Linked DNA regions of Homo sapiens: regions 1, 3 and 4 are each linked to region 2. The links come from fine-mapping of genetic effects on gene expression. A gene starts in region 2. Each other region holds a variant in brackets. All regions are shown on one strand. Distances are from middle to middle.

Region 1 (4,881 bases), 480 kb after region 2:
ACAGCTTACTGCAGCCTCAACTTCCCAGGCTCAAGCAATCCTCCCACCTTAGCCTCCCAAGTAGCTGGGACTACAGGCACATGTCCCCATGCCCAGCTAATTTTTGTATTTTTTGTAGAGATGGAGTTTTGCCATGTTACCCAGGCTGGTGTCAAACTCCTGGACTCAAAGCGATCCACCCACCTTGGCCTCCCAGAAAACAATTGGCCAAGCACGGTGGTACACACTTGTAATACCAGCACTTTGGGAGGCTGAGAGGCCTCAGCTACTTGGGAGGCTGAAGTTGAAGGATCGCTTTAGCCGCGGAGGTAGAAGTTGCAGTGAGCCGACATCACACCACTGCACTCCATCTACCTGGGGTGACAGAGAGAGACGCTGTCTTGAAAAAAAAAAACTGATATCAAAAACCCTCACATAAACCATTAAATTAAAGATGGCCAGGCGCGGTGGCTCACACCTGTAATCTCAGCACTTTGGGAGGCCGAGGTGGGTGGATCACCTGGGGTCAGGAGTTCGAGACCAGCCTGACCAACACGGTGAAACCCCGTCTCTACTAAAAAAAAAAAAAAAAATACAAAATTAGCTGAGCGTGGTGGCGCATGCCTGTAATCCCAGCTACTCAGGAGGCTGAGACAAGAGAATCATTAGAACCCGGGAGGCGGAGGCTGCAGTGAGCCGAAATCGCGCCACTGCGCTCCAGCCTGGGCAACAAGAATGAAACTCTTTCCCCTGCCACAAAAAAAAAAAAAGAAGAGGAAGAGGAAGAGGATGAAGAGGAGGAAGAGGAGAAGGAAGAGGAGGAGGAGAAGGAAGAAGAAGAAGAGGAGGAGGAGGAGGAAGAAGAGGAGGAGGAAGAGGAAGAGGAGGAAGAGGAGGAAGAAGAGGAAGAGGAAGAAGAGGAAGAGGAAGAAGAGGAAGAGGAGGAAGAAGAGGAAGAGGAAGAAGGGGAGGAAGAGGAAGAGGAGGAAGAGGAGGAGGAAGAGGAAGAGGAAGAGGAAGAAGAAGAAGAAGAATTAAAACTCTTGCCAGGTGTGGTGGCTCATGCCTGTAATCCCAGCACTTTGGGAGGCCGAGGCAGGCAGATCACCTGAGGTCAGGAGTTCTGAGACCAGCCTGGCCAACATGGTGAAACCCTGTCTCTACTAAAAAATACAACAATTAGCCAGGCGTGGTGGCAGGTGCCTGTAATGCCAGTTACTTGGGAAGCTGAGGCAGGAGAATAACTCGAACTTAGGAGGCAGAGGCTGCAGTGAGCCGATATCGCACCACTGTGCTCCAGCCTGGGCGACAGAACTAGACTCTGTCTCAAAAAGATAAATAAATAAAATAATAATAATAATAACTCTTTCTTCATGTCTTGAAGGTTTTGTTAGGGCTTAGGGGTCATTCTTTTTCTTTTATAAATACGAAAATCATTCCACTGAGAGAGAGGTTAGTTATTCAACAAAATACATGTAGTACTCAGCCCTTAATACCTTCCCACAGAAAAGTTTCATGCATGTCTATTACAAACTGAAATTGCTATTAAAAACTAAAATTTTCACACAGAAAAGAAGTTCTTCATTAGTTTTTCTTAATCTACCTAAAAAAAAAAAAAAATAGGAAGAAGAAAATAGCAGCCAGGCATGGTGGCTCATGCCTGTAAACCCAGCACTTTGGGAGGCCAAGGTGGGTGGATCACCTGAGGTCAGGAGTTCGAGACCAGCCTGGCCAACATGGTGAAACCCCATCTCTACTAAAATATAAAAATTAGCCGGGAGTGGTGGCGTGTGTCTGTAATCCCAGCTACTTGGAAGGCTGAGACAAGAGAACTGCTTGAGCCCGGGAGGCAGAGGTTGCAGTGAGCCGAGATCGCGCCACTGCACTCTAGTCTGGGCGACAGAGTCAGACTCTGTCTCCAAAAACAGAAAATAGCTTTAAGGCTGGGGGTGGTGGCTCATGCCTGTAATCCCAGCACTTTGGGGGGCTGAGGTGGGTGGACCACTTGAGATCAGAAATATGAGACTAGCCTGGCCAACATGGTGAAACCCCATCTCTACTAAAAATACAAAAATTAG[C/T]CGGGTGTGGTGGTACACATCTGTAATCCCAGCTACTTGGGAGGCTGAGGCAGGAGAATCGTTTGAACCTGGGAGGCAGAGGTTGCAGTGGGCCAAGACTGTGCCACCATACTCCAGCCTGGGTGACAGAATGAGACTGTATCAAAAAGAAAATAGCTTTAAATGTCTATGATGTATTCTGTTTAAATGAATTTTAAATATTACTTATCTCTATGGGTCTGTAACTCCATTGTTAAAATAAAAGAATTATATTAGAAAACTTTATTCCTTTTTAGAAAAATTGCTACTAAATGCAGTAACAGATAACATCTTTATTGACAAGTCAGTATTTGTGTATTCACTATGAAAATTATTCTCTCATGCCTGTAAACCCAGAACTTAGGGAGGCCAGGGCAGGTGAATCACCTGAGGTCAGGAGTTCGAGACCAGTCTGGCCAACATGGCGAAACCCTGTCTATATGAAAAATACAAAAATTAGCTGGGCGTGGTGGCGCATGCCTGTAGTCCCAGCTACTTGGGAGGCTTGGGCAGAAGAATCACTTGAACCTGGGAGGCGGAGGTTGCAGCGAGCCAAGATTGCGTCACTGCACTCCAGCCTGGATGACAGAGGGAGACTCTGTCTCAAAAAAAAAAAAAGACAACAGAAAATGGTGATAAACAAAAATGATCCCACTATTCAGAGATAATACATTCTTAACATTTTGGTGGTGAAATTACTCTTTCAGACTTTTGTTTTATTTCTAGATAATATATCTAATGTTCCTTCAAGATCTTAAATTCTGATGTAAATACAGTAATTAAGAATACCTAAATATAATGAGGATACTAAGCTGAACCTTGTTTTGTTATATTATAGACATAAATAGTGTTTTTCTGTTTATGCTTAGACAACTTAATATTTTTCATTTTAATTAGTAATTAAAATTTTCTATTTAATTTCCCAATGTATATAGCATGGGAAAGCATACTATAGCTCCACTCACAAGGCATCCAAGCCTTACATAAGCCACTGTCCACTTGGCAGTAGCTTACCCAAAGTGTGAACAGTCTAACAAGGGAAAGTGTCATCTGTGCCAGCTTTGCAAACATAAACCCACAGTTTCAGGAAATACTGTCCACACTTCATAAATGTCAGGTAAATTCTGGGCTGTTCCTTCAATCCCACTACAGGCCATTCATCTTTGGGTCTCTACCCAATATAAATGTTTATAGATGCATCTATTCCCATTGTAAGCCTAGCTAGAAGTTAACTGACATAATTTGGGCCCTGGCCCAAGTGTGGACCAGATACTATCCCTGATAAATTGCAGATTTTTCCAGGCAACAGCCTATATGTAACTTTGACAAATGAGTCTAGATTTCCTATTTGCCTTCTCCATTTTATGCTGTGAAATACAGAGATTTATTTCCCATGTTCGTCCACATTTTACATTTATCCATGCAATGCATACCATGGAAATTGGTATTTAAACAGTTCCCAAAGAACAAGAGAAGGGAGAGACTACAACAGAAATTTTGAAATGAAGGTAAACACGAACAAAGCCAAATGAAATCTATGCCATACCCAACGGAAAGAAAGAAGAGTCATTATTTTGAAAGAAATGAGTCTTGAACCATCCAAGTCCCAGAACTAGAATTCTCTTAATCTTGGAAGAAAGTATTTATTGAGTTCCTAACAGGAACCCAGCACCACACAGGACACTGAGAGAGGTTTGAAAAACCTTTCAAACACTGTCTTCAGTCCACAACAAACTTATCATATAGTTGGAGAGATAGACCATAGAGTCAGTAAACAGTTCAATACCAGTACATAGTAGAATATGAATAAAGAGGAGACATAAATATTATATTTGGAGAAAGGAAAATGACTGTGGCCTGAGGTAGTGAGGGAAATATTCATAGCAGTGTTGGCATTTGATCGGCATCTTTTTTTTTTTGAGACAGAGTTTCGCTCTTGTTGCCCAGGCTGGAGTGCAATGGCACAATCTCAGCTCACTGCAACCTCCGCCTCCCAGGTTCAAGCAATTCTCCTGCCTCAGCCTCCCAGGTAGCTGGGATTACAGGCATGCACCACCACACCCAGCTAATTTTTGTATTTTTAGTAGAGGTGGGGATTCTCCATGTTGGTCTGGCTGGTTTCAAACTCCCGACCTCAGGTGATCTGCCTGCTTCCGCCTCCCAAAGTGCTGGGATTACAGGCGTGAGCTACCACGCCTGGCCCTGATCTGCATCTTAAGCTATACTTACTTATTTCAAAGCACACTTTGAGAGAGGTCCCTACCTTGAAGCCCCACATAATGTCCCCAGATAAAGGCCTCTCTTCAGTGAGGTTGACCCCAGGACTGTATCACCATAAAATATAAAATGTATCCTTTTCATTTCAATCCTTCAGAACATCAGAGCTCTGGACAAAACAGGAGAACAACCATGTCACATGACTCCCTCTGAAAAATCTTTGTACTTCCATTTGTCATCTCTTAATACCTCACTGTCAACCTTGGAAAGTTCATAGTTACAACTAAAGATCTCCCACCTCAGGAACAACAGATACCCAGGCAAGTAACCACAGAGACAGTCAAACAAATCTCTCTGCCCCACCCCTTCCTTCAAGTTAGTTTTATTTGAACAAGGAAGTATGGATCCAAAACGGAGAGACATCCGCTGGGCAGTGGCTCATGCCTGAAGTCCCAGCTAATCAAGAGTCGGAGGTGGGAGGATCACTTGAGCCCAGGAGTTCAAGGTTGCAATCAGCTATGATCATGCAGCTGCGCTCCAGGGTAAGCAACAAAGTGAGACCCTGTCTCTAAAAAAAGAGAGAGACAGA
Region 2 (4,881 bases):
TTGCATGTATATGCCACATTTTGTTTATCCACTCAGCTGTTGATGGACACTTGGGTTCCTGCCACCATTTGACTATACTGAATAATGCTTCAATGAACACAGGTATACAAACATCTGTTCAAGACCCTGCTTTCACTTCTTTTGGATATATACCCAGAAGTGGAATTGCTGGATCACATGGGAATTCTATGTCTAATTTTGTTTTTTGAGGAACTGCTACATAACCATCTGTTTTTGCACCACTTAATAAACAGTCCGGCTGGGCGTGGTGGCTCACACCTATAATCCCAGCACTTTGGGAGGCCGAGGCGGGCGGATTACCTGAGGTCGGGAGTTTGAGACCAGCCTGACCAACATGGAGAGACATCGTGTCTACTAAAAATACAAAATTAGCCAGGCATTGTGGTGCATGCCTGTAATCCCAGCTACTTGGGAGGCTGAAGCAGGGGAATTGCTTGAACCCGGGAGGCGGAGGTTGTGGTGAGCTGAGATCACGCCACTGCACTCCAGCCTGGGTAACAAGAGCGAAACTCCATCTGAAAAAATAAATAAATAAGCAGTTCATAATTTCCTTCTCACTTGAAATGCTGTTATCTTTCATGTGTAAAATACTTGAATTTGGTATAAAGTAATAAAGTGAAATGGATAAGAATAGGGCCTTGTGAGTCATTTGAACTGGATTTTATTTATTATTATTTTTTGGTAGAGGTGGGAGTCTTGCTATGTTGCCCATCTCAAACTCCTGGGCTCAAGTAATCCTCCCGCCTTGGCCTCCCAAAGTGCTAACATTACAGGGGTGAGCCATTGTGCTGGCTGAATATCTGCTGTGTCACTTGGAAGCTGCATGTCCCTAACCAAATTATGTAACTTCTCTAAACTTCAGTTTTCTCAGTTTCTCATGACAGTAAAATAGAAGTAGTAACATCTACCTAAAGGATTGTTATTAATATATAGCTAGTGTTATTAATATACTAGTGCTTTGATTACATTAAGATGTTGATAAGTGGCTATTATTTCTTTTTATTTTCTGTTTTTTCTTTTTCTTTTTTTTTTTTTTTGAGACAGAGTTTTGCTCTTGTAGCCCAGGCTGGAGTGCCAGTGGCATGATCTTGGCTCACTGCAAACTCTACCTCCTGGGTTCAAGCAATTTTCCTGCCTCAGCCTCCTGAGTAGCTGGGATTACAGGCACCTGCCACCACACCCAGCTAATTTTTGTATCTTTAATAGACATGGGGTTTCACTGTGTTGTCCAGGCTGGTCTCGAACTCCTGACCTCAGGTGATCCACTCACCTTGGCCTCCCAAAGTGCTGGGATTACAGGCGTGAGCCACTGCCCCGACCTATTTCTGAACGTTCTAGTCTATTTCATTTATCTAGGAATGAAAGAAGAAAAAGAGAAGAGCGTGGGGTAGCATAAGAGAACTACAGAAGTAAAAGCATAGAGACAGGAAGGGACAAGGTAACTTTTAGGGCAATTTTTATCAAAATGTGGGACAATACCTATTGTGGGTTATAGTATCACTTTAATAACTACAACCAGTATTTTGGCTTAAATGCATAAACATATTGCAATTGAATAGAAAATATGACATATTGGAAGTATTGTTTCAGAAAATTTAAGTTTCAGTATATATATACATATTCTATATATACCCATTTAATTTTGTATAGGTGTACCGTGATAAGATGTAAAATGTATTTATTGTGGTTGTTGGGCAAAAAAGGCTGGAAAAACAGTATTTTAGCACCCAGGAAGTAGTTCATTTGAGCAGAAACATTGTTTAGGCAGGAAAGTTCTATAAATCAAGGTGGACCACAGCATTTGGAAAGCCTCCTCTACTTTTCACATTGTTTGGAGCTTTATTTTCTTCCCTTTGTTAAAAATATACTTTAAAATTATTTGTTTTGTAAAAAATTTAAAATACAAATGAAGGTAAAGTAGCTCTTGACCACCTTCTTCCTCCAATCCGAATCCTGGCCCTCAGAGTTACTACTTTGCCCTTTCCCCTTTCAGACTTACTCCTTCACATTTAAATGCCTATGTGTGCAAATATATAGTTTGCAGCAACTTGGCTTTTTTTTCTCTCAATTTATCTTGATCTTTTCACGCAGATTTATCTTGCTCAAGAGCTGCACAGTATTTCAAAATGCGAATGTACCATAGTATATCTTGTCTTTCCTCTATCGATGAATGACTAGGTTTCCAATTTTTTGTTATTTCCCCCCGTGTCCCCCAATAAAGCTGGATCCCGAGCTTTTTTTGTACACATGTGCAAGTGCCCACGGGGTAGAATCCTAAAAATAGAAGATGTGTGAGTACTTTCTTTTTCATTTTGTAGGCTCTGGGGAACTACTGCAGGGAGGTTGGGATACAAAACATCCCCAGGCCAACAACCGGCCAGCTAGGACAGGTTCTTGCTTTAGCCCCCGACAAGTTTTCTTCCTTTCATAATGGACGCTGACTTTGTTTTTTTTACCTCGTAGATGCAACAGTTCCCAGCACCAAACCCAGATATACAACCATTCAGCTACCAAGAGCTACGCCTGATAAATTAGAGGGGAAAAAAAAAATCTCCAGTCCCTTCACGTCGTGACGCTTGCTTCCGGGAAGCGGGCCGGAAGCCACTCCTCGAGTCTGCGTCAAACCCGACTTCAGGGGCCGTCGTAAAAGTGTCGTCCCTGTCTCTCCGACCGGCCACAGGTTTCCGCTTGCCTCTGGCCGGGGGTCGGCAACTGCAGGCGTCAGTTTCCCTCAAGATGGCGGACGAGGAGGCTGGAGGTACTGAGAGGATGGAAATCAGCGCGGAGTTACCCCAGACCCCTCAGCGTCTGGCATCTGTAAGTCCCTATAGGCAAGTCTCTTTTGTCCTCCCCCCGGTCCCTCCCTACTGCGCTTAGGAGGATGTGGGGCTTCACCCCTTATGGCGGCTCTGGGGAGGGGGAGTTATCTGGATTGATCTGGAAGGAAGCCACCGAATAAAAAGTTAGTCGCAACCCACATTTCTGCCAGCCAAGTCTACGGAATATAATGACTTTGTTATGTATTATTCTTGATGATCTCAAGTGTGCATGTCTCTATTCTGAAGTAGAAAGAACCAGTGATGTTATTAGACGGTTTGATGTGGGGGCCGAGGCGGGGTTGGAGCAAGAGCCATTTTCGTATAGAAGCAGTACTAACCCTTTACTCTTGATGATGGGAACGCAGCACCTGGTATTTTATTGCATAGCCTGCTGGCCGGGACCTGATATTGGTAGGTAGTGCTGCTACTGTCAAGTCATGTCTAGATGTGAGGTGTAGTAATTGTCCTTGCGTATAGCATCTTGGGAACCCCAGGCCTAACCCTCAGTGGAGAAACCCATCATCTGTCGCTACTTTTTAAAGGTGAAGAAAGGACTCCCAAACATTTCAAGCCAGAGCAATACCATTAATTGATGTCGGAATCTATACTTTGCTCTTGCATTTTGAAAGAATGGGAAGGCACAGATAGTGAACAAATTTGAGTCACTAGCTACAGGGAGAAAGCTGCCGAGGAAGATAAGAGTAGGGGGCAATGTTAGGGAATGTTCTGGATGCCCAGGGCATCTAGTGTGGAGATATGTAGAAAATATTCAAATATCTGTCACCGCATGATGTTTTATTAGTTTGTCTTTCTAAATAGCAGCATTTAGAGATTTGGGATATACACATTTTTTCTGAAGTTTCTTTGGCTTGTAGTTTAATAAAAACATTATTTTATTTTATTTATTTTTTGAGGCAGAGTTTTGCTCTTGTTGCCCAGGCTGAAGTGCAGTGGTGTAATCTCGGCTCACTGCAACCTTCCGAGTTCAGGAATTGAACTGCAAATTCCCGAGTTCAGGAATTCTCCTGCCTCAGCCTCTTGAGTAGCTGGGATTACAGGTGCCTGCCACCATGCTTGCCTAATTTTTTTTATTTTTATTTTTATTAGAGACGGGGTTTCACCATGTTGGCCAGGCTGATCTCGAACTCCTGACCTCAGGTGATCCACCTGCCTCGGCATCCCAAAGTGCTGGGATTACAGATTAAAAGCATTCTTGAAGGTTTTTTGTTTTTTTTTTTAACCCTGCATACAATTGAACATTGTTTTATGCGAGAACAGAGGGAACTACAGAGGGAGCTACGGCATGAGTCAACTCCAGGGACTGAAGAGACTGTCTAGGAGGTAGGAACAAGGTAGGGAGGGAGTTGGAAAAAGGATTTGGCCACTGACTATGTCAGTGCTTGCCGTTTTCCTCCACCCCAAATAGCAGTTCAAATTCACTTCACTACTGTTCCTGAAGGAGGAAGCATCTTATTTGAGATGATAAGGAATGAGGAGGTAGGACAAATTTAAAAGCAACTGAAACATTTTAATGGTAGTTTGTGAGTTTTGCTTGTTAGAAGGAGTGGGGAAACTGCTGTGGTCAGAAGAATTGTTATAGTTTTGTATCTGAAGACTAATATTTATTTAAAGCTTTGATACATTAATTTTTTCCAGATAATACAATAAAACCCCATCATTCTGGACGTCACTAATTTGGAATTGGAGATAATGATACAGGAATTGAGCTAGAATTTATGTGGCAACTCTTTACCTCAGGAAATATTATTAGATTTTGTTGGGCAGGGCTTTGGGTTTTGCAAAGTAGTAGGTAGATTGTGTAATATAGCCTCAAGGAACTCACAGTCTGGTGACACAGGTAATATAAGGGCCCAAATAATTTTAATTCAAGGTAGAGTAATGTCAGTAAATGAAGTCCTGTGACTGTTAAGCTTTATAACCCCTTTTTTGGCTTGGATCTCTCTGTCTACTGAAGACCCTACAGATCATTCTACCTCTCTCTTTCTCTTTTTCTCTTTTAAAAGCTATTACTGTTTTTAAT
Region 3 (4,881 bases), 100 kb after region 2:
AAGGAAAGGGGGAAGCTTTTAACTTAATATTGCTAAATATCATTTTTATTTTTATTATCTTTCTTATATTTCTTGCCTATAGTTACTTAAAATCTACCAAAATATGAAGACAAGTGACCAAAACATGTGTCCTCATTTCTGATCATTTCTTTTGGTAGCACCCCAGCAGTCAGTGACTACTCTAGAATTGCTTTGGGTCCTAAACGGGGTCCATCTGTTACTGAAAAGGAGGTGCTGACGTGCATCCTTTGCCAAGAAGAACAGGAGGTGAAAATAGAAAATAATGCCATGGTATTATCGGCCTGTGTCCAGAAATCTACTGCCTTAACCCAGCACAGGGGAAAACCCATAGAACTCTCAGGAGGTATGTATTATTTAATAAATATCCTTTTGTGCATTTCTTTTCATGCCTGTGTAATTAAAGAAAATACTATTTGAAAAACATTTGGAAATAAGGGTTATATATCTACCATACCATTATCATATTTAAGAAAGTAATAATAATCCAGGAATATTATCTAATATAAAATCAATTTTTCTCCAACAGTTCTCAAAATGTCTTCAATTCCTAGACTTTTTTTTTCACTTAGGATCCAAACAAACACGTGTTGCTTTGGCTATATTTCCTTTACTCTATTTTAATCCAGATTAGTCCCTCCTTTTTTTATGATAGTAGCTTTTTTGAAGAATTCAGGCCACTTGCTTTGTATAATGTGTCACATTCTGAATTTATCTGATTGTTAAGTTGCCTCCTGATTAGAATCATGTTAAACATTTTCTTGGCAGGAATGCTAATTAGATAATTTATTGCACTTATTACATCAGGAATTAGCTGCTTTAGCATCATTATTATTTTAAAATATCCTTGGAATAGGCCAGACATGGTGGCTCACGCCTGTAATCCCAGCACTTTGGGAAGCCGGTGTGGGTGGATCACTTGAGCTCAGGAGTTTGAGACCAGCCTAGGCAACATGGCGAAACCTCGTCTTTACAAACATATTAGCCAGGCATGGTTGCATGAGCCTGTGGTCCACAACAGGGTGAGACCCTGTCTCAAAACAAACAAAACAAGCTCCTTGGAATAATAGTGATAATAAAGACTAGCATTTATTGAAAACTTAACATTGCCAGGCACTTGTTAAGTGCTTTATGTGTATTTACTTACTTAATCCTCACAACAGCCCTATGAGTTAGTTATCACTATTAGTTCCATTTTATAGATGAAGGACCTGAGGCACAGAGAGGTCAAGTAACTTACCCATGGCCATGAGTTACAAGTGATGAAACCAGAATTTGAAATCCTCAATCTGTGCTTTTCTTTTCTTTTTTTTTTTTTCTTTTTTTTTTTTTTAGTATTTATTGATCATTCTTGGGTGTTTCTCCGAGAGGGGGATTTGGCAGGGTCATAGGACAATAGTGGAGGGAAGGTCAGCAGATAAACATGTGAACAAGGGTCTCTGGTTTTCCTAGGCAGAGGACCCTGCGGCCTTCCGCAGTGTTTGTGTCCCTGGGTACTTGAGATTAGGGAGTGGTGATGACTCTTAACGAGCATGCTGCCTTCAAGCATCTGTTTAACAAAGCACATCTTGCCCCGCCCTTAATCCATTTAACCCTGAGTGGACACAGCACATGTTTCAGAGAGCACGGGGTTGGGGGTAAGGTTATAGATTAACAGCATCCCAAGGCAGAAGAATTTTTCTTAGTACAGAACAAAATGGAGTCTCCCATGTCTACTTCTTTCTACACAGACACAGTAACAATCTGATCTCTCTCATTTCCCCACATTTCCCCCTTTTCTATTCCACAAAACCGCCATCGTCATCATGGCCCGTTCTCAATGAGCTGTTGGGTACACCTCCCAGACGGGGTGGTGGCCGGGCAGAGGGGCTCCTCACTTCCCAGACGGGGTGGCTGGACAGAGGCGCCCCCCCACCTCCCAGACGGAGCGGCTGGCTGGGCAGGGGCTGCCCCCCCACCTCCCTCCCAGATGGGGTGGCTGGCCGGGCGGGGGCTGCCCCCCACCTCCCTCCAAGACAGGGCGGCTGGCCGGGCGGGGGCTGCCCCTCACCTCCCTCCCGGATGGGGCGGCTGGCCAGGCGGGGGCTGCCCCCCACCTCCCGGATGGGGCGGCTGCCGGGCGGGGGCTGCCCCCCACCTCCCTCCCGGAAGGGGCAGCTGGCCGGGCAGAGGCTGCCCCCCCACCTCCTGGACCGGGCGGCTGCCGGGCGGAGATGCTCCTCACTTCCCAGATGGGGCGGCTGCTGGGCGGAGGGGCTCTTCACTTCCCAGATGGGGTGGCTGCCGGGCGGAGGGGCTCCTCACTTCTCAGACGGGGCGGCTGGGCAGAGACACTCCTCACATCCCAGATGGGGTGGCGGTCGGGCAGAGACGCTCCTCAGTTCCCAGACGGGGTCGCGGCTGGGCAGAAGCACTCCTCACATCCCAGATGGGGCGGCGTGGCAGAGGTGCTCCCCACATCTCAGACGATGGGTGCCGGGCAGAGACACTCCTCACTTCCTAGACGGGATGGCGGCTGGGAAGAGGTGCTCCTCACTTCCCAGACTGGGCGGCTGGGCAGAGGGGCTCCTCACATCCCAGACGATGGGCGGCCAGGCAGAGCCGCTCCTCACTTCCCAGACGGGGTGGCGGCTGGGCAGAGGCTGCAATCTCGGCACTTTGGGAGGCCAAGGCAGGCGGCTGGGAGGAGGGGGTTGTAGCGAGCCGAGATCAC[G/A]CCACTGCACTCCAGCCTGGGCACCATTGAGCACTGAGTGAGCGAGACTCCGTCTGCAATCCCGGCACCTCGGGAGGCTGAGGCAGGCAGATCACTCGCGGTCAGGAGCTGGAGACCAGCCCGGCCAACAGGGCGAAACCCCGTCTCCACCAAAAAAATGCAAAAACCAGTCAGGCGTGGCGGCGTGTGCCTGCAATCCCAGGCACTCTGCAGGCTGAGGCAGGAGAATCAGGCAGGGAGGTTGCAGTGAGCCGAGATGGCGGCAGTACAGTCCAGCCTCGGCTTTCACAACTTTGGTGGCATCAGAGGGAGACCGGGGACAGGGAGAGGGAGAGGAGGGAGAGGAGGGAGAGGAGAGGAGGGAGAGAGAGAGGAAGAGGGAGATCCAATCTGTGCTTTTCTTAATGAGGTTATAATTCCCCTAAGTATCCCTTAAAATTATTATTTATCAAATTACTATTAAAATTAAAAAAGTAAATTATCTTGGAAACATAGAAGATCACTTAAATAACCAAGATAATGCAGATTAAACCCAATATTCAAGGTTAAAAAGTAAATCAAAGATAGAGTTATTAATCCATACTAATTTTAGAATCATATCTGACAGGCTACCTTTATGCTTTTCTCTTTTGTTACTATTACTTTTCTCTTTTTGTTACTATATATCCTCCTATCATGATATTGTGACACTTTGCTTGGACATTCCTAAGACAGTTTGTGATTAGACTTTGGACCTGATAACCTGTCTCTCTTTTTCCCTCCTTTTTATACCTTGTACCAGAAGCCCTAGACCCACTTTTCATGGATCCAGACTTGGCATATGGAACTTATACAGGAAGCTGTGGTCATGTAATGCACGCAGTGTGCTGGCAGAAGTAAGTTGTCCTTCTGACATGTTCTTGAAAGAGACTAGGAACATTGAAGTTCACTCAAGGCCACAAAAAGGCATGTTTTCTCATGTCTTCTTTCCTTTCTTCTTATTTGAATAATTGAAACAGTTTTAATTACTAATTCTGTTTGCATGAATTATTATTATCAAAGTTGGAAAGTGGTGTGTAAAGTTACCAACTTTAGATTTTCACTGTTCCTTTGTGCTTGCTCTCCATAAACTAATCAGTTGCTCTTCATCAGTATTCATGTAAAAAAAGTAATAATTGGCCGGGCGTGGTGGCTCACACCTGTAATCTCAGCACTTCGGGAGGCCGAGGCAGGAGGATCACCTGAGGTCAGGAGTTTGAGACCAGCCTGGCCAACGTGGTAAAACCCTGTCTCTACTAAAAATACAAAAATTAGCTGAGTGTGGTGGCACATGCTTTTAATCCCAGCTCCTCCGGAGGCTGAGGCAGGAGAATCGCTTGAACCCAGGAGGCAGAGGTTCCAGTGAGCCAAGATTGCGCCATTGCACTCCAGCTTGGGAGACAAGAGCGAAACATCGTCTCAAAAAAATTAATAAACACAACAAATAAATAATAAAAAAGTAATCTTTATAAAAATCTAATTTCTGTCAAAACATACAGCTGTGAAAAGTACCTTTGAAATAGAATAGGATGAATAGGACAAGAAGTTCTCGTTCTATCTCTGGAAAATATAAAATTTCAAAAATGTAATTCCTGAGAAATCTTTTGTGTAGAGTTTACCCATTTGGCTTTAGATTACAATATATAATTTTTCCATGATAGCCCTCACTACTTCAGTTCATCATTAGAAACTGAGGAAAGTAGTGTCCATGCTGTATCACCATGCTGTTGAGGCAAGAGATGAGTTATGATTCAATAAACTTATTTTAAATTTATATCTGCTCTGATGTATTTTCCAATTTGTCCCCAAAATAATGGGCAACCTGTTTCTTCTATAATTACAACTTGTGTGTTTTTGCATGTATGTTCTAAAGATGTTTATTGGGGCAAAAATTCCAGATTTTTAAAACTTGGATTAGAGCAAGTAGAGATACACATGTAGAGATGCATGTGTAGTTCTGAATGGGCCTGTGTCTTTGTAATTTTGCAGGTATTTTGAAGCTGTACAGCTGAGCTCTCAGCAGCGCATTCATGTTGACCTTTTTGACTTGGAAAGTGGAGAATATCTTTGCCCTCTTTGCAAATCTCTGTGCAATACTGTGATCCCCATTATTCCTTTGCAACCTCAAAAGA
Region 4 (4,881 bases), 160 kb after region 2:
GTTCTTCCATTTGTTTGTATCCTCTTTTATTTCATTGAGCAGTGGTTTGTAGTTCTCCTTGAAGAGGTCCTAAACGTCCCTTGTAAGTTGGATTCCTAAGTATTTTATTCTCTTTGAAGCAATTGTGAATGGAAGTTCACTCATGATTTGGCTCTCTGTTTGTCTGTTATTGGTGTATAAGAATGCTGGTGATTTTTGTACATTGATTTTGTATCCTGAGACTTTGCTGAAGTTGCTTATCAGCTTAAGGAGATTTTGGGCTGAGACAATGGGGTTTTCTAGATATACAATCATGTCATCTGCAAACAGGGACAATTTGACTTCCTCTTTTCCTAATTGAATACCCTTTATTTCCTTCTCCTGCCTAATTGCCCTGGCCAGAACTTCCAACACTATGTTGAATAGGAGTGGTGAGAGAGGGCATCCCTGTCTTGTAGCACATAATTTTCAACAACTTCTCCAAAATTTGAAGGTAGTGTTTCCCCAAAATTTTTAAAGACACCAGCCATCTTAATGTTTCAGTGTTCTATTGTTTGTAATCAACCTTTCTTCAGAACTACTTAAAAGGATTGACACTGATAGTATAAGTTTGTAGTGTCCAGTGATGAAGTTTGTTTTAGAGATATTGTTTCCATTGCAATACTTGAAACTTTTTTTTTCTTTGTTTTTTGAGACAGTCTCTCACTCTGTCACCCAGGCTGGATCTCGGCTCACTGCAACGTCTACCTCCAGGGTTCAAGCGATTCTCCTGCCTCAGCCTCCCAAGTAGCTGGGACTACAGACATGCACCACCACACCCGGCTAATTTTTTTTGTATTTTTAGTAGTGACGGGGTTTTACTGTGTTGGCCAGACTGGTCTCGAACTCCTGACCTCAGTTGATCTGCCCACCTTGGACTCCCAAAGTGCTGGGATTACAGGCATGAGCCACTGCACCCAACTGAGACTTTTTATTAGCCAGCTATATCAGCCTTCTTTCCTTCTGAGCATTAACAAAATATTTAGAATCCTGAACTTTTCTGTATCCTTCCCTGGTGGTAGGAACTGGGGTCCTACTGATGACTTATGAAAATGAGGAGACTGACAGTGATCTCAAAAGTACATATAGATAAAGATTAGACCTCCTTACAATAAACTCTTTTTGGTTCACTGAAATTTTGTTCCTTTGAAATATTGCTCAGAAAGAATACACTTATTAGATGGGGCTTGGGACCTTGGATCACACAGAGCTTTCTTTTTATTGGGATGACATTTGACCTGTCTTTAGGTTTAGGGAGAAAAGCAGAGTGGTGAAAGTAGTTAATGACTGAGAATCTTAGTTGTTCCACAAGGGTACAAAGCAGAGTTTTAACATTAATTTGGCAGTTTAAAAATCCCCAACCAGGCGGCCGCGGTGGTTCACGCCTGTAATCCCAGCACTTTGGGAGGCCGAGGCGGGCGGATCACGAGGTCAGGAGTTCGAGACTAGCCTGGCCAACATTGTGAAACCCCGTCTCTACTAAAAATACAAAAACAATTAGCCAGGTATCGTGGCGGGCACCTGTAATCCCAGCTACTCTGGAGGCTGAGGCAGGAGAATTGCTTGAAACTGGAAGGCAGAGGTTGCCCTGAGCCGTGATCGTACCACGGCACTCCAGCCTGGGCAAAAAGAGCGAAACTCCATCTCCAAAAAACAAAAACAAAAACAAAAAAAATCCCCAACCAGCTGAGAGACTTGAATGTCTCAAGGAATTAGGATCTCACAGTTCTCCGTTACTGGCAACAGCCAGACTTAAGTCATTTTGGATTAGCTGTTATACAGTGTTAAAAACTGTGCAACTCTAGAATTGAAGTATAATTATTTTATTAAATTATTTGCTAATAACCAGCCAGTTTTTTGTATCGTAAGGACAGTTACAACCAAATATCTCTGAGTAGCAAAATATAATTTTAGGGCCTAGTGTTATACGTCAGGCCTAACCTCTACTGTGCAAAGATCATAAATTGAAGCTAGATAACAATATGAAGCCAAAAAGCTATTCAAGCTAACCACCAAAAAAGAATAGTGCTGCTTCAAGTTATAAACCTCAGTGACCATTTAAGTGAGGTCCCATAATGCCATAATATACCTGACCTATTTTATGAATGGTCAAGGAGTACATTTCTGCTTTATTAGCTAAGTAGCCTGTCAAGTTCTTAGTGATCAATGGTGAAGGGAAAATATCCCTTTTTAAGCCCTGTGCTGGTGAGTCCTCCCGGCTCCAGGAACATCTCAAGAGTGCATACTAATTTAGACAATAAAGATGTGGCAGTTACTAGATTCAAACTTACATGTTGTTTTTTCTTTTTTCCCTAAAGGAGGGGCAACCCCCTTCATTTATCTCGTGAGCGGTATCGGAAGCTCCATTTGGTCTGGCAACAACACTGCATTATAGAAGAGATTGCTAGGAGCCAAGAGACTAATCAGATGTTATTTGGATTCAACTGGCAGTTACTGTGAGCTCCAACTCTGCCTCAAGACAATCACAAATGACGACAGTAGTAAAGGCTGATTCAAAATTATGGAAAACTTTCTGAGGGCTGGGAAAGTATTGGAGGGTCTTTTGCTCCAT[G/A]TCCAGGTTCACTTACATCAATAAAATATTTCTTAATGGAGTATTGCTTTCAATTAGCAAACATATGCTTCACAGGAAAAAAGGACATAGATCAATCTGTTTTATGTGCTAGTATTTCCAGGAATTTATTCCCCTTCATAATTTGTCTCATTTCATTTTATTTCATCCACTTGGTAGATGAAGTCACGTCAAACAGTTGTAGACATTTTATATGTTGGTTAACTCTTCTGCAATTTTGTATTTGGTGTTTTCCCCCCAAGTTTAGTTCAACTGACATTGGATCACTGACAAAATTCTAATAATCTGTGATAGTCTTCCTTGCAGTTAAAGAAGAATTGCAGAAACCATGCAATATACTTGGGAAAGATTCCAAAAATAAATTTTTTATTATTTCTCTTTTAAGGAAATACCCCTAATGTGCCACCTGCTGCTATCACCACAAATTAAACTCAATCTCTATGTGGACAGAGGATGATTTCTGCCAATATGGAAAAGCTTTTTTCTCACTGTAGGCCTCAAGAAAAGTTAGGGTAATGTATTTGTTATTCATTCCTGACGGTACAAAGAGCTTGCAGTTCTCACCTCTGACTACCAGTAGCTTTGTTGAGTTTTGAAATAATACTTGACATTTTCCAAAGGCAAATCTCATTCTGCAAGGAGATTGTGGCACCATCCTGTTTGACTCTCAGAAACCTCTTGTAATTCTGATGTAAAAACTGTAGAATGAAGATGAGAAAATTCTCGCAATGAGTGGATCATGACAACTGTAAATTAGAACAATCAGATTTAAACCAATTCCGCAGTCTTCTATATCTTTGTAAAAGACAAATCCTTGATGTTGTCTGTGTGCAACCTTTTCATAAACTCTGGTTTTATGACTAGTACAAACCACCAAAAAAGCCATGTGATCAATAGTCTGTGTCCTGTTATAACATGCTGTGGTTGAGCCATCTTGTTTATAAATAATAGAGCTCTCCTGAATTTGTGCATAGACTTCTTGGTTCCTGGCTTTTGTTTTTTGTATCAAGAGATTGTGATATAAAACAGCAGAAGATAAATGGAAACCTTCCATTTTAACTTACGTTGTTTCTGGGGTAATGTTAGAACCTTGAAAGATGCATTCAAAGACTGTATCTTATTTTGCCCTTGGCTATTAGTGTCTCACATATGTGTGTAAATGTTTTCCTACCTTCTTTTTGCTCAGCAAAGGCAAGCAAGTAAAATATATTTGCTAAGTGATTAGTGATGCACATTTGGGGCTAGATTTTTTTGGTACTTTTATGTAAAGAAAAGTGGATTTTGCAGTAAGGGATTGGCATGAGCAGGCGTCAGAATCACAATCATGATTTTCTACTTGAATAATTACAATTCAGAAGGTATCTGGATAAATAGATACATGTCTAGTGAACAATTTGTAACAATAACAGGTAAGGATCAGGAAATTCAGTATTCAGTTTGTCAGATTTGCCAGAATGATGAAAGTATTTGAACATGTGTGTTTGTTTCTTATATAATTGTATTGAGTGGATTGTTTGACTGGGAAATCTGGGCTAGAATAGGAAACAGAAGATACTGACTTCTACCCTAATAGATGGGCCCCAATTTAGCAAAGATAAACTGACTTTATTTTTAGTCCTTTTTATATTAACTTAATAAATTCTGGAGTTAGGCTCTCAAGAGGACAGAGGGACTGTCTGGCAATGGCCAGCCAGACCTTTACTGCCAAAGAACCCATTTCATATTGCGTTCCACTGATTGAGATTGATTCAGATTTTTGCACTGTAGATGAGCGTATGTCTCAGTGCTGCCCCAAGCCCCAGGGATTTCTCATTATGTTCAAATGTCCTAGTGATTTACCTTAATCATTGCAAACAATTATGCTTATGAAGTTTACTTACAAACAAGCAACTGAGTCACTTTATTTTCTTTAGTGTAGTATGTGAAGGCACTGGTTCAACAGGATGGCTCCAGAACTGTGTTTTTCTAATGTTTGGTAAGGGGCTAGTGAGAATTTTAATGATATGGTGAAGAAAAATATATCTGTATAATTAATTTATTATATTGGTGTATGGGCTGTGAGTTCACCTTTTAGTGGTCATTTGTCATTTCATAACAACTATGCATTTTGGTTCACTGTGATGATGATCTATATTTAGTGACTGCAACATGTTTATACCACTGATTCAAATTCCATCCATGATGAAGTTATACAAATAATGCATATATTGATAACTTTTATTGCAAAAATGTAAATTTAAAACTTGTATAATGTTCTTGTGCTTTTTAAAATA

Direction of the effects. Alleles are on the strand shown, and positions count from the first base shown. SD is a standard deviation of normalised expression in the study named. Not every link is listed here.
In carriers of allele C in region 1, the expression in monocytes after LPS of the gene that starts at base 2,742 in region 2 tends to be higher than with T alone (large effect, 0.76 SD a copy in Fairfax 2014).

What was found. PIP is the estimated chance that this variant, and not a neighbour inherited with it, causes the effect.
Region 1: its variant is the best candidate, but not a certain one, in a credible set for the expression of UBR1 in monocytes after LPS (Fairfax 2014, PIP 0.81).
Region 3: its variant is the best candidate, but not a certain one, in a credible set for the expression of UBR1 in whole blood (INTERVAL, PIP 0.58).
Region 4: its variant is the best candidate, but not a certain one, in a credible set for the expression of UBR1 in whole blood (TOPMed, PIP 0.71).

Annotation. Positions count from the first base shown.
Region 1 is chr15:42,622,366-42,627,246 of GRCh38, reverse strand. All of the region lies in intron 3 of STARD9 (StAR related lipid transfer domain containing 9), which reads right to left. Among named protein-coding and RNA genes, the nearest start is that of STARD9, 49 kb to the right of the region's middle. The variant C/T (reference allele first, on the strand shown) is at 2,058.
Region 2 is chr15:43,103,899-43,108,779 of GRCh38, reverse strand. It overlaps UBR1 (ubiquitin protein ligase E3 component n-recognin 1), which reads left to right and starts at 2,742. Exons shown (of 47, transcript NM_174916.3): 1 at 2,742-2,838. The coding sequence starts at 2,758. RefSeq lists an enhancer at 2,644-2,923.
Region 3 is chr15:43,002,562-43,007,442 of GRCh38, reverse strand. UBR1 (ubiquitin protein ligase E3 component n-recognin 1) reads left to right here. Exons shown (of 47, transcript NM_174916.3): 30 at 159-364; 31 at 3,513-3,606; 32 at 4,739-4,881. Among named protein-coding and RNA genes, the nearest start is that of TTBK2, 84 kb to the right of the region's middle. The variant G/A (reference allele first, on the strand shown) is at 2,732.
Region 4 is chr15:42,942,926-42,947,806 of GRCh38, reverse strand. It overlaps UBR1 (ubiquitin protein ligase E3 component n-recognin 1), which reads left to right. Exons shown (of 47, transcript NM_174916.3): 47 at 2,337-4,881. The coding sequence ends at 2,478. Among named protein-coding and RNA genes, the nearest start is that of TTBK2, 25 kb to the right of the region's middle. The variant G/A (reference allele first, on the strand shown) is at 2,591.